2 separate regions of the Homo sapiens genome follow, and region 1 is linked to region 2. Evidence: fine-mapped expression QTL. Tissue or cell type: lung. Region 2 holds a variant in brackets; the other region holds the start of a gene. All regions are shown on one strand. Distances are between the middles of the regions.

What was found. PIP is the estimated chance that this variant, and not a neighbour inherited with it, causes the effect.
Region 1: it holds the start of SULT2B1, and the variant in region 2 is fine-mapped to the expression of SULT2B1 in lung (TOPMed, PIP above 0.99). The same link has a PIP of 0.9 or more in thyroid.

What each region holds. Positions count from the first base shown.
Region 1 is chr19:48,550,948-48,553,699 of GRCh38, reverse strand. It overlaps SULT2B1 (sulfotransferase family 2B member 1), which reads right to left and starts at 1,528. Exons shown (of 7, transcript NM_177973.2): 1 at 1,377-1,528. The coding sequence starts at 1,447. RefSeq lists an enhancer at 1,584-2,108.
Region 2 is chr19:48,570,959-48,573,710 of GRCh38, reverse strand. All of the region lies in intron 1 of SULT2B1 (sulfotransferase family 2B member 1), which reads right to left. Among named protein-coding and RNA genes, the nearest start is that of SULT2B1, 20 kb to the right of the region's middle. The variant G/C (reference allele first, on the strand shown) is at 1,157.

The DNA.
Region 1 (2,752 bases), 20 kb after region 2:
CCAGGCACCCAGGAAGGCCTCTTCATGCCCCAGCTTCTGGCTGAGGGAGGGGAGGGGAGGGCCTGAAACAGTGGAATGAAATGAGGCGGCCAGGCGTGGTGGCCCACGCCTGTAATCCCAGCACTTTGGGAGGCCGAGGCAGGTGGATCACCTGAGGCAAGGAGTTCAAGAACAGCCTGGCCGACATGGTGAAACCCTTTCTCTACTAAAAATACAAAAATAAAATTAGCCGGGCATGGTGGCGGGCTCCTGTAATCCCAGTTACTTGGGAAGCTGAGGCTGGAGAATCACTTGAACCCAGGACGCGGAGGCTGCAGTGAGCTGATATCGTGCCATTGCACTCCAGCCTGGGCAACAAGAGCGAAACTCCATTTCAAAAAAATAAAATAAAATAAGAAAGGAATGAGGCAACTGGGCTGAGAACAGGTCTTGGTTGTCTCCCTCCTCACAGCCCACGGTGGCTGGAGGGGCCCAGGCTGCCAGGAAGGTCTCACTTGGCAAGAGTGCAAGATACGAGGGGTTGGAGATTGTCTCAGCAGTTTGCTGTGTGATCTGGGGCAGGCTGCCTGCCCTCTCTGGGCCTCTGCGCTCCCCTAAAAGATGGAGCCACGGGGAGGGGTGTAAAGGGGACATCACCAAGGCTGTGAGGAGCAGGAGAAACCACAGGCTCTGGCGTGAGACAGACCGGGTTCAGATTTGCTTCTAGCTGCGTAATTGCGGTCATGTCGCGTTCCCTCCCAGCCTCAGTTTCCCCATCTGGAAAGCAGGTACTGTCAAAGTGTCTGACTCATCCCCAGGAAGAGGGAGTCACGCTGAGCTCATGGAAGTGGGCAGTGCTCTGCCCTAACCACTGTTAGGAGACCTGAAGAGTCCAGAGCCTGCCCTCTCCGCCCCAAGTGCCCTAGAACACAGCTTCTCCCTCTGGGGGTCTCAGCAGCATCCCAGTCTCTCCCATTTCACCCCCAAGCACCCCCGTTATTTCAGGGCTTGCATGGGGTGTCCTGGGTACTACAGGCTGTTGTGTTTCCTGAGCAACTACTATGCACCAAGCTGCCTGCTCTCTTCCACTGCTCTATCAGGGAGACACAGGGCTTGTGGGCCCCTTTGACAGACAGAAAAACTGAGGCCCGGAGAGCGACAGGGACACCCCAGGCATCCCCACTGGTGACTCAACACGGTCGGGTCCTCACTCCCTTCTCAGGAGGGACCTATACACCACACTGGATGCCCCAGCCCAGCCCAGCCCCTCCAGCTAAGTCTGGGCCAGGCCTGCGGCTGCGGGTGGCTGGAGGCCACCCTTGCCACAGTCCCCGGCTCCCCCAAACAGCCACCTCCTCCCTGGGATCTCCTGGCTCCTGCCCAGGTCTGGGCCTCACCTGATTTCCGAGATGTCATCTTCATAGGTGTCCCACAAGCCCGGGATCTGGGGCTCGGCGGGCCCGTCCATGGCAGGTGGGTGAGGGTGGGGAGGGGAGGACGAGCAGGGAGCAGGCGGCACAGAGGCCAGGTGTGCGCAGCGACAGCGTCTGCCACCTGGGGAGCCCGCCAGGTGCCTACTCCGTGCCCGGCCCAAGGGGAGGGGCAGCACCCAGCCGGTTCTCCCAGCTGCTACCCACGCCTCCAACAGCGGGGAGAGGCCAGAGGGAGCCACCCTGCTCTGAGGGCGGGGAGGAGCAGTGATGGGCACGTCCTGGCGTCTGGTGCTCAGCTGGGGGCAGAGTCCAGGGGGTCAGTGCCAAGCCCACGCCAGAACCTTCCGGGCTGGCAGTTCTGGGCCTGTGGGCACCCACCTGGAGCCCACGTTGCTCATTTGGGAAATGGCGCTGATCTCGCCCATCTCAGCGAGTTCATTCATTCATTCATTCATTCACTCATTCATTCCTTTATTCATTTGAGAAATATTTACTGAGCATCTCCTGTCTGCCAGGCGCTGTTCCAAGCACTAGGCCACCGCTGGGGAAGGGGCAGACAGAAACTTGCCCTCACGGGCTGACGCGTAAGGGGCACCCTGGAAACAGACACAGGGACAGAGGCACAGCCAGGACCACGGCAGCACAGACAGGGCGGGAGCCAGGGAGAAAGGGAGAGGGCAGAGGGCATGGGAGACAGAGACCAGGAGGGGACTGAGATGCACAGGGGCCAGAGACCTTGAGAGACGCAACAGAGATACACGGAGGGCGGAGACAGAGACACACGGACACCCAGAGGAGACAGAGACACACAGGGGTCAGAGACCCTGAGAGACCCAGCAGCGATATACAGAGGGCAGAGACAGAGATACATAGAAAGGTCAGGGACAGGGAGAGACACAGATATGAGAGACAACTGCCAGATATGGTTGGGCGTGAGAGTCTGAAGGTCACAGCCCTGGTTCAAATCCCAGCTCCAGTGCCTCCCAGCTGTGGGGCCGGGAACCATCTTGCTCATAGGCTCATCTTGCCTTAGTTTCCCCATCTGTGAATGGCACCCATCGGGCTGTTGTGAGGACTGAGGGAGACACTCTCAGCTGCTGGTGGAGGATCTGGTACACAGTGAGCTCAGCATAGACGGTGTTCTCTTCTCTTCTGCCCCCACCCCAAACCCTGGCCCTCCCCAGCTGTTGGTCCCTGACCCCTCAGAGTCCTGGAGTCATGAAGCCAGTCTCCCCACCAGTGGTGGCAGGTGCCTGTAATCCCAGCTACTTGGGAGGCTGAGACACGAGAATCGCTTGAACCTGGGAGGTGGAGGTTGGAGTGAGCTGAGATCACATCAC
Region 2 (2,752 bases):
TGGCCTCTCAGCCCTGTAGACTCAGTCCCTCCTTCCCCATGAACGCCACAGTCCAGCCAAGACCTCCAAATGCACCGAGCAGTAGTCCTACCTCTGGGCCCCTGGAGCTGCTGTTCCCGCTCCTGGAAATGTCCCCCGACCCTGCCACTCTCTGGGCCTGAGCGCAGAGCCAGGACCCCCCTGTCCCCCACCCACATGCCTACGTGGCTGCATTCTCGCATTCCTAAAACAGGTACCCTGTGCCTGCTGTCCACCTTGTAAAACAAATCTGGCCCCGGGACGAACTTCTCTACGCCTGGGACGTAGACAAACAGGCCTGTTTGTTCCCACAAAACACGTCCAGGGCCTGGCGTGCTGATATCGCTCGATTTGAGTGGAGGAATGAAAGGGACAATTAAGCCAGCGAGAGGCCAGGGACAGGGACAGCAGACAGAGCTCCTCCGGGTGGGTGGCCACAGCAGGCAGGTGATCCCCGGGAATGACTCAGCCTCCTGGAGGGTGAATGGTTCTGCCTGCAAGCCCCCTGGACATGTAAATTTTTTTTTTTTTTTTTTTGAGATGGAGTCCTGCTCTGTCACCAGGCTGGAGTACAGTGACACGATCTCGGCTCACTGCAACCTCCGCCTTCCAAGTTCAAGCGATTCTCCTGCCTCAGACTCCTGATTAGCTGGGACTACAGGTGCCTGTCGTCACGCCCAACTGATTTTTGTATTTTTAGTAGACATAGGGTTTCACCATGTTGGCCAGGCTGGTCTCAAACTCCTGACCTCAGGTGATCTGCCTGCCTCAGCCTCCCAAAGTGCTGGAATTCCAGGCATGAGCCACCGTGCCCAGCAGACATGCAACTCTTAAAGGCCCAACTTCCCAGCCCTCCTGCCTCCCTCCTCCATGGACTACTGGGTCCTGGTTCCTTCTCTGTCCCTGCATTCCTGCCCACCTCAGGCCTTCTCCTCTCCCTGTGGGCCCTCGACTCAGCCTCCTCCAGGTCTTCTCCGCTGCCCCTCCTCTGCTCCCAGCCCTCCTGTGGCACCTCAGTGCCCTCAGGTCAAAGCCTAGGCCAGTGCCTCCTCCTCTGGCCTCCTTGCTGCAGACACCAGCTCCAGGCACGCCCATTTTCCACTCTCTGAGTGCCTTTCCCATCTCCTCCTTCCACCTC[G/C]ACACAGGTCAGATATCACCCTCTTTTTTTTAATTTTTTTTGAGATGGAGTCTTGCTCTGTTGCCCAGGCTATAGTGTAGTGGTGTGATCTCAGCTCACTGCAACCTCCGCCTTCCTGGGTTCAAGCTATTCTCCTGCCTCAGCCTCCCTAGTAGCTAGCACTACAGGTGCATGCCACCATGCCTGGCTAATTTTTGTATTTTTAGTAGAGACGAGGTTTCACTGTGTTAGCCAGGATGGTCTCGGTCTCCTGACCTCATGATCCGCCCACCTCGGCCTCCCAAAGTGCTGGGATTACAGGCATGAGCCACCGCTCCCAGCACAGATGTCACCCTCTAAATGCAGACCTTCTAGACCAATAGCCTCCTTGCCCCAGGAGATGGGGCCACAGCCTCCTTAAACCTCTGAATTCCCTCTGTCCATCCCCCTCCAATCCCAGGAAAGGGCCTGGCACCAGGAGGGGAGCCACCCGTACAGAAACTCTATGCCAAGAACATGCATGATCCTAGACTTCTCCCAGAACCTCAGGAAGTGAGTAGTGAAAGGACCACTTCATGCTCCAAGAAATGGAGGCCCAGAGAGGTTAATATAGTCCCCTAAGGTCACACAGCAGCCATCATAGTTTTCATTAAACACAAGTGCAGCCGGGCATGGTGCCTCATGCCTCTTGTCCTCACCTTTTTCAAGTCTTTGTTCCAAATGTCACCCCTTATCATGAGGGCTACCCTACAGCATCCTGTTTACAGCTAGACCCCCTGCACCCTCTTCCCCTGCTCTGCCTACCATCACACCTGTCACTCACTCCTGAGCTACTCTACAGTTGACATATGACATTGATGGTTTATTGACCATCTTCTCCGCTTGCATGTAAGCTCCATGAGCCTGGGAATTTAAAAAAATCTGGTGTTTTTTTCTTTTGTTATTGTTCTGTCTTGTTTGCCAATGTACCTAAAGTACTCTCAGCAGAGCCTGGCAGCAGGGAGGTGCTTGTCAATATTTATTGAAGGACCCAGGCAGGAGGATCGCTTGAAGCCAGGAATTCAAGACCAGCCTGGGCAGGCTGGGCACTGTGGCTCAAGCCTGTAATCCCAGCACTTTGGGAGGCTGAGGTGGGCGGATCACCTGAGGTCAGGAGTTCAAGACCAGCCTGGCCAACATGGTGAAACCCCATCTCTACTAAAAATACAAAAATTAGCTGGGCACGGTGGTGGGCGCCTGTAATCTCAGCTACTCGGGAGGCTGAGGCAGGAGAATCGCTTGAACCCGGGAGGCAGAGGTTGCAGTGTCCTGAGATCACATCACTGCACTCCAGCCTGGGGACAGAGCGAAACTCCATCTCAAAATAAATAAATAAATAAATAAATAAATTAGCCAGGCATGGTGGCCTGTACCTGTAGTCACAGCTGCTCAGGAAGCTGAGGTGGGAAGATCACTTGAGCCCAGAGTTCAAGGCTACAGGGAGCTATGATCTCACCACTGCGTGCTCCAGCCTGGGTGACAAAGCAAGACCTCATCTCTAAAAATAATAATAGGCCAGGTGTGGTGGCTCATGCCTATAATCCCAGCACTTTGGGAGGCTGAGGTGGGCGGATCACC